2 separate regions of the Homo sapiens genome follow, and region 2 is linked to region 1. Evidence: fine-mapped expression QTL. A gene starts in region 1. The other region holds a variant in brackets. All regions are shown on one strand. Distances are from middle to middle. Region 1 holds the start of SLC7A10 (solute carrier family 7 member 10). Region 2 overlaps WDR88 (WD repeat domain 88).

Evidence for each region. PIP is the estimated chance that this variant, and not a neighbour inherited with it, causes the effect. A credible set is the group of variants that fine-mapping cannot tell apart.
Region 2: its variant is the best candidate, but not a certain one, in a credible set for the expression of SLC7A10 in whole blood (TOPMed, PIP 0.53).

Annotation. Positions count from the first base shown.
Region 1 is chr19:33,224,115-33,228,498 of GRCh38, reverse strand. It overlaps SLC7A10 (solute carrier family 7 member 10), which reads left to right and starts at 2,649. Exons shown (of 11, transcript NM_019849.3): 1 at 2,649-2,946. The coding sequence starts at 2,796.
Region 2 is chr19:33,158,730-33,163,113 of GRCh38, reverse strand. WDR88 (WD repeat domain 88) reads right to left here. Exons shown (of 11, transcript NM_173479.4): 8 at 2,618-2,700. LOC124904691 (a long non-coding RNA gene) reads left to right here. Exons shown (of 2, transcript XR_007067228.1): 2 at 2,459-3,343. Among named protein-coding and RNA genes, the nearest start is that of TRT-AGT1-3, 16 kb to the left of the region's middle. RefSeq lists a cis regulatory region at 1,773 and enhancers at 1,689-1,858, 2,202-2,611. The variant C/T (reference allele first, on the strand shown) is at 1,664.

The DNA.
Region 1 (4,384 bases):
AAAGTTGTCTGGTGCTTTGATCAAAATTACATTGGATGTATTTATCAATTCTATAAATCAATGTGGAGACCAACATTTTAAATTCCAATCCATGAACATGGTATATCCCTCCATTAGCTTATGTCTTTAACAATTTCTCTCAGAAATGTTTTGTAGTTTCTTGCATAAAAATTGTACACATCATTCACTAGAATTATTTTTAGGTATTTGATTTTATGCTATTATTAATTTCATTTTCTAATTATTTCTAGTATATAGAATACAATTAGTTTCTGTATATTAAACTTCTGTCTAGCGACTTTGCTAAATGAACTTATCTTCCTTAAATTAACCTGTAATTTTTTTTCTACATACTGAATCACATCATATGTGAATGGCAGCTTTATCTTTCCCTTTACTATCTTCATACCTTTTTACTTATTTTTCTTGTCTTATTGCTCTGGCTAGGACCTCCAGTACACTATTGTATAGAATATTGACAAGTGCCAACATCCCTTCTCATTTTCAATCTCAGTAGAAAAGCATTCACACTTTCACCACTAAACATGATGTCAGCTGTAGGGTTTTTGTTTGTTTCTTGGTTTCTTGGAGATTTGTTTTTAGGTAGATACTTTTATCAGATTAAGGAGGTTCTCTTCTGTTTCTATTTGCTAAGAGTTGTTTGTTTACATCACGGATGACTGTTTTTTGCATCTGTTGAGGTTTTCCTTTTTTCTCTCTATTAATGTGGAGAATCATGCTGATTGGTTTTTGGATGGTAAACCAATCCTACTAACCTTTTGTTCCCATTGAAATTTGCAGGTTCTAGTTCAATTCCACGAAAAGGACCTCCTGAGCTATGGGGCCTGGCTGACAACATACAAACTCCATCCTGTGCAAAGCCCTAGGCCGACCTTTCCCCCACAAACGCATACTCCACATTCCAGGTCCCAGAGAGACACCCTCGAAAACCACAGGCTTCAGAGCTGCGAGGCTTGCGCCAGCCCCTGCCCCTTGGCAAGCTGCCCCTGATTGCACCAGCCCTGGCTAGACCCTCTCCCAGCAGACCCTAGAATTGCGAGGGCAACTGGGGGGCTGGGGAGAGTCAAACCAGAAGGTCGAGGCCTCTGGCCCCTAACACCCGCGACAATCAGGGGTCTCCGGAGCCAGGGCTGCCCCTACCCTGCGCGAGGCTCCTTTAAGAGAGTCGGCCTCTGAATGGTCTCTGGGGCTGGAGGTGGAGGGCGCCAAGAATGCCGGTCTCCGACGACAGAAGCGAGAGGGATGCAGCTTCGCCGGGTGGCCTCCCCCTCGGCGTCCCACCAGCACGTCCACCCTGGATCCTCCCGCTCCTACTCCTACCCCAAGTCCCCGCCCCCAACTTCGAAGCTCCTGTGTGCCTGCAAACGCCGGCCCCGCCCCGCTCCCACCTCCAGGCCCTGCCGCTGCCAGGGACCCGCCCCTGCCAGGGACCCGCCCCCGCCCCGTCCCACCCCGGTCCACCCTGCAGCCGTCGGACCCCTGGCAGGGCCCCAGCAAACCCGGAGGCCGCCACTGGGGGGAAGGACGGGGCGCCCGGCGAGGCCTCATCCACATGCAGGGGACGGCGCGTCGCGGCGGCCGCCAGGAAGAAACAAAGGCTGTTCCGCCGCCGGCCGCACAGTGCCAGGCTCGCCCCGCCCGCCGCCCCGGTGGCCCCGACGCGGCCCCCCTGGATCTTTTCCGCCGGCCTCGGCTGCACAGTCCGGACGGCTTCCGGGAGGAGGCAGCCTCCCTCGGATCCCCGCACTCCCGACCCTCTCCCGCGACCACAGCCTCCTTCTCCGTGTCTCCCGGGCATTCCAGGTCGCCTGGCCTTCTTGAGCCGGGCTGGATCGCGCGGGACCTGCACCAGAGACCCGAGTTCTAGTCCGCTGAGCCCTCACTCTGACCTGGGACGAGGAGCCTGTAGTGAAGATCTCAGGCCAGAGGTGGCCCAGAGCCTGGTAGGGTGGGCGAGCCGTGTCCAGGACTCGTCACAGGTCTTGGGTCCCCGTGATGAGGATGAGAGCCCCCGGGATCTTCACCTCGACCCTCAGGCCTTTGATCCAGGGTGCATAGGACACCCAGACCCCTCAGAGGAGTTCCAGACCTCAACCCCCACCCCTCCTGAGGTTGTCCGCCTGGGAGCCTCAGGAGGCACGAGAAAGGGTTTGGTCTCAGCCCTGCACTTGCTCGGCGATCGCTACTGATCTCTGGGCTTCAACTTCCACCTGTAGAATGGACTCACCCTGGGAGCTGTCTCCTACACACACACACACACACACACACACACACACACACACACACACATCGTGCAGGCATAGAGTACTAAAGGGAGCACACACTGCATCCCCACACGCGGCCAGCTGTTATTCTTGCCGTCCCCCTCGGCCTCCCTGAGAGCAGGGATTGTCTTGTCTCGGAGCTCTGCTCCCCAACCCGGCCCCAAGAATGGATGTAACTCAGGCAACTGGAGGGTCCCTTCCTTCGCCCAACTGGGAAGTCCTTCCTAGATCTGCCCCAAGTCCTCTCCTTCCTTCCCAGGCCGGGACTGGGGGAGGGGGCGTTCCCTTTAAGGGAGGTGGGGGAGGGGGCTGTGGGCCGGCCCTCCTTCCGCCCCTCCCGGGCCCCCGCCGCCCGGGGCCCCCAGTCCCGGGCCCGGAGCCAGCGCATGCGCCCGCCTGTGGGCGCTGTCCCGGCTGCGAGGGCCGTGAGCTCACGGACCGACGGACCGACGGGCGGCCGGCCGGACAGACGGGGCAGCGCAGGGAGCGGGGACGCGGCGGGACAGCGACATGGCCGGCCACACGCAGCAGCCGAGCGGGCGCGGGAACCCCAGGCCTGCGCCCTCGCCCTCCCCAGTCCCAGGGACCGTCCCCGGCGCCTCGGAGCGGGTGGCGCTCAAGAAGGAGATCGGGCTGCTGAGCGCCTGCACCATCATCATCGGTGAGCGGGACCCAGGCGGGCGGGCGCCGGGCGGAGGCCGAATGAGGGGCGCAGCCGCTCCGAACGAGGGGCGTCCCCTCTCCGGGCGCTCGGACGGGTCTGCCTGGGGAACCTGCAGTCTGGCCTCAGAGAGCGCTATGACCGCGGGGAGGTCAGGGGCTGCTGGCCCAGGGTGCCAAAGCTCCGTGTTCCCACCTCCCGGCCGCCTGCACCTGGGGGAGTTTTGGGTCCCCTCCACCGCTGGACTCTTCCTCCTGACTCGATTTTGCTGCGGGGCTTTTGCAAGGCAGTTACCCTCAGTTTCCTCATCTGTGAAATGGCCATGACTGCAGTCCTGCGATTAGCGCAGGAACTTGACCAGTGTAGGGGCTGGTCAGGCTGCGGCAGGCTGAGCTCCCCAAGTTCTGTACTGTGGGTCAGTCTGAGTACCTACTGTGTGCAGGGTCCAGGTGCCACGCAGTGCAGTGACTTTATTCTTGGAAAGCAGGAGGGCCTATGAGCAGAGTGAGCAAGCGCAGCCTGCGCAGAAGGGACGGAGGTTCAGAGCAGGCAATGACTGCAGGGTTTGGCAGCAGGACCCAGGAGAGGGGGCGGGTTAGCCAGCAATTGGGGGCAGCAGTGGGCAGACCCAGCCTGCAGAAGGCCAGCTGCTCCCTGAGCTGGGATCCTGGTGGGCACTGGACACTCGCCTGGTCTGGAGGCCCTGGACTCCAAAGTCCCCACCTGAGAATGGGTCCATGTCCTGCCCCCACATAGGGGTTTCTGGGCAGGCAGAGAGCTCAGAGGTCATGGGAATGGCAGTGGTATTTTTCCACTCTCTGTCCCAAGTCATGGATACTGACTTGTTTCTTTGTCTACACAGAGTGCCTCTGAGCCCCTCCAGGGAGGGACAGGAGAAGTGGTTTGGGGGGTGAGTGACTGGGGCCTCGACTGTTCTCACCTTACCGCCAGCCAGTCTTCCCGGTCCCCTGCCAGTGAGAGCCACTTGTGTCTTCACTGCCTTCCCACCCTCAGACCCCTGGAGATGGAGAAAGTTTGGGGGCTCAGTAGGGCAGACCCAGGGTCTTCACCTCGTCCTCTCCCACCCCCACATTAGCAGCTCTTCACATCCAGAGTTGCCCCTGAACACAGCCCCTGGCCAGGTCACTCCGCCATCTCACCCCCTCCCCTTAGAATGCTGTCTCCCAGAGCCTGGTCCTGACCTGGCCCTGGGAGCTTCTTGGCCTAGGATGCCCCTGCCTGATGGACGGTCTGCTGGAAGGAAGGGCTGGTTCCAGGGATTTGGCCAGGGTGCTGGTTAGAGCTTTTTCTTGGCCCACACCCTCTCCAGGAACTGTCCTCCAGGGAAGGGGAAGCTCACACCATGAGTGGGTCATAGGATTGAGACCATGCCTAGAACCAGCTACAGTGCCAGGCAGGTGCAGAAAGACACAGCTCT
Region 2 (4,384 bases), 65 kb after region 1:
GATCTGCCTGCCTCGGCCTCCCAAAGTGCTGGGATTACAGGCGTGAGCCACCACACCCCACCTAATGTTTGTATTTTTAATAGAGATGGAGTTTCACCATGTTGGCCAGGCTGGTCTCGAACTCCTGACCTCAAGTGATCCACCTGCCTCAGCCTCACAAAGTGCTGGGATTACAGGCATGAGCCACTGCGCCCTACCCATTCTATATTTATTTATTTAGTTATTTTTATTTGACACAGGGTCTTACTCTGTCCCCCAGGCTGGAGTGTAGCAGCTCAATCATAGCTCACTGCAGCCTCAACCTCCTGGGCTCAAGTGATTCTCCTGCCTCAGCCTCCCGAGTAGCTGGGACTACAAATGTGTGTGCCACTGTGTATGGTTTTTTAAAATAGTACTCGGGTGTTTAGCAAGATTGGGGGAGAAATATTATATTCCCAGCTGGTCTCAGGTTTTCATTTGCATTCTTTGTTCTAGGAAATACCCCTCAGAGGCCCTGTAAGTGAGGGGGCTTTTCGCTTCCAATAACTGCAAACTCGATCCACTGTGGCTTAAGCAGAGAAGGAGTGGGGTGTTTTCTTTGGGTACATAGGAGCTCAGAGCAGGCCGGGCGCGGTGCTCCATGCCTGTAATGCCAGCACTTTGGGAGGCCGAGGCGGATAGATCACGAGGTCAGGAGATCGAGACCAGCCTGGCTAACATGGTGAAACACCATCTCTACTAAAAAATAAAAATTTAAAAAAAAAAAATTAGCCGGGCATGGTGGTGGGCACCTGTAGTCCCAGCTACTCAGGAGGCTGAGGTAGGAGAATGGTGTGAACCCAGGAGGCGGAACTTGCAGTGAGCCAAGATCATGCCACTGCACTCTAGCCTGGGCGACAGAGCGAGACTCCCGTCTCAAAAAAAAACAAACAAAAAAAACAGCTCAGAGCAGATAGCTGCCATTGCTGCCTCAGACACTGAATGATGTCTGGGCTTTATGCCAGCATCTCTGTCCTTCTTTGGCCTTCCCCGTATGGAAAGAGGCAGAAAGTGAGGCCATAGTGTGGTTAGAGAAAAAGGAATCAGAGGGAAGGTTAAACCGCTTAGTGTAATTAAAGGACAGGAATTTGAGGATGGGAGCACAGAGAAAGAGGAGAGAAGAGGAGAGAGAATAGAACAACCGGCTCTGTCACCCAGGCTGGAGTCCAGTGGTGCAATCTCAGCTCACTGCAGCCTCTGCCTCCCAGGCTCTAGAGATTCTTATGCCTCAGCCTCCCAAGTAGCTGGGACTACAGGTGGGCATGACCACACCTGGCTAATTTTTGTATTTTTAGTAGAGATGGTGTTTCACTATGTTGGCCAGGCTGGTCTCGAACTCCTGACCTCCAATGATCCTCCAGCCTCAGCCTCCCAAAGTGCTGGGATTACAGGCATGAGCCACTGTGCCTAGATGACAGAGGGACTTTAAGCACAGAGAGGTTTAACATTCCATTTTAATCCGTTTATTTGCTGTGAGGAAACTCGCTTTGTCTCCCCAAGTCCTAGGAGAAGACAGCTCAGATAGACCAGCCCCAGGGACCTGAATATGGGCTGCTCAAGGACACATGTCTACTTTGTGTCCCTGGGAACAGAAAGACCAAGAATCAGGGATGCACGCATTCACAGCCAAAGGTGACAGTGAGAT[C/T]GTGAAACCAGGGAGTATGCAGAAATCCTGGGGTGTGGGGCCCCTTGGGGGAACAGGGGCACAGCATGAGGCAATTGTGGGTTCTTGCTGTGTTGGATAACACATCCCCGTATCATAGAGCCACTCTGAGTTGGGGCTCCTCTCATCCTCTCACTTGTAGCCCAGAGCATTCAGTTGACATCCCCATTTTGGAACCCCAAGCTTTCTGTGCATGCCTCACTAGGGCATGCGTCTCTCTTCAAGGTAATTTCTGTTTTTTGTTTTGTTTTGTTTTGTTAGAGACAGAATCTCAGTCTATCGCCCAGGCTGGAGTGCAGTGGCACAATCTTGGCCCAGTGCAACCTCCGCCTCCCGGGTTCAAGCGATCCTCCCACCTCAGCCTCCCAAGTAGCTGGGACTACAGGTTTGCACCACCACACCCGGCTGATTTTTGTATTTTTAGTAGAGACGGGGGTTTCACCATGTTGGCCAGGCTGGTCTCAAACTCCTGACCTCAGGTGATCCGCCCACCTCAGCCTCCCAAAGTACTGGGATTACAGGAGTGAGCCACAGTGCCCAGGCCTGCACAGTAACTTCTGCTGTTCTTAGACACTCCCACCTCAGGGTTTTTGCATCAGCTGTTCCATCTGCCTGGACTGCCCTTCTTCTTCAAGATCCCCACTTATGTAGTCCTTTCTGTTCTCAGCTCAAACACCTCCTTCTCCAGGAAGCTCTGCCCATGCAATGTGGATGGGTCCCCCGCCTCTGTCCCCATCATGTCACCCTGTTGTGGTTTCTCCATTTCACTCCTCACAGTCGGTGGTGTGTTTGCTGGCTTCCTGTCTGTCCTTCATCAGCCCACAGAGGCATCAAGGCCTGTGTCACTCACAGCTGTGTCCCCAGCAACCAGCATTGAGCACAGGAAGGACTCGGGAGGGAAGTTCAGATCCTCAATCTCATGCTGGCCACATGTACCTTCAAAGAGAGCTTCCGGTAGCCTTCTGCTACATCCCAAATAGCCACAGTCCTATCAAACCCTCCAGAAATGAGAAAAGAGCCTGCAACAGAAAATGAAAGGGTGGAGATGGGGGTCAACTTTCCAAGCCAAGTGAGCCCAAAGCCAGCTGAAGATGCCTTGGCGAGGCACCACCTCATCTCACTCTGACAACACTGAAACCCCTTCCTGGAGTGGCTCCACGACCCCAAGCCAATTACAGCTGATTCTTATCATTTACAGTAGTCATGTTCTATGACAGGGGTCCCCAGTCCCTGGGCCACAGACTGGTACCAATCCATGGCCTGTTGGGAACCAGGCCACCCAGCAGACAGTGAGTGGTAGGCAAGCAAGCCAAAGCTTCATCTGTATTTACAGCCACTCCCCATCGCTCGTATTACCACCTGAGCTCGGCCTCCTGTCAGATCAGCTGCAGCATTCGATTCTCACGGGAGCATGAACCCTATTGTGAACTGCGGATGCGAGGGATTAGGTTGTGCACTCTTTATGAGAATCTAATGCCTGATGATCTGTCACTGTCTCCCATCACCCCCAGATGGGACCATCTAGTTGCAGGAAAACAAGCTCAGGGCTCCCACTGATTCTACATGATGCTGACTTGTATAATTATTTCACTATATATTACAATGTAATAATAATAAAAATAAAGGGCACAATAAATGTAATACACTTGGGTCATCCCGAAACCATCCTCCACAGCTCCCATTTGTGGAAAAGTTGTCTTCCATGAAACCTGTCCCTGGCGCCAGAAAGGTTGGGGGCCTCTGCAGTTTTTGCAGACACTGAATTAGTGAATACTGAACCATCGCTCCTAGGGGAAATACAGGGTCAGTTTCCTGCGAGCTCTGGTCACATTCTCATCAGTTGATCAGTACGTAACTTTGTTTTATGTGTGTTTCTGTTTAAAGACACCTTATTGCATATATACTGTTGATTTGTTTACATTGAACTCACAACCAACAGCTGTAACTCATGCCTGAATGGATGCATGCATTTTCCCCATCATAGCACTCTCGCGCTTAGGAACGGCAAACAGCACTTCGGCACTGTGGTTAGGGATCATTTTATTTGTTATTTATTTATTTATTTATTTATTTATTTATTTATTTATTTATTTATTTTTAGAGATAAGGTCTTGCTCTGTCACCCAGGCTAGAGTGCAGTGATGCAATCAGCTCACAGCAGCTTCAAACTCCTGGTCTCAAGCAATCCTCCCACTTCAGTTACCAAGTAGCTGGGACTACAAGCAGGTGCCAGCACACCTGGCTAAATTTTTTTTTTTTGTTTTGGTAGAGATGGGGTCTCACTATGTTGCCCAGGCTGATCTCAAACTCCTGGGTTCAAGCAATACTCCCGCCTCAGCACCCCCCCAGCACTGAAATTAAAGCTGTGAGCCACCACACACGGCCAAGGGAGCCATTTTACACAGCAAAATCACTAACAAAAAGCAAAAGAAAGCCCAGGTGTGGTGGCTCACGTCTGTAATCCCAGCACTTTGGGAGGCTGAGGCAGGCAGATCACATGAGGACAGGAGTTCAAGACCAGCCTGGACAACATGGCGAAACCCCATCTCTACCAAAAATACAAAAATTAGCCAGGCATGGTAGTGCGCACCTGTAATCCAAGCTACTTGGAAGGCTGAAGCAGGAGAATCGCTTGAACCCAGGAGGCAGAGGTTGCAGTGAGCCAAGATCGCGCAACTGCGCTCCAGCCTGGGCAACAGAGGG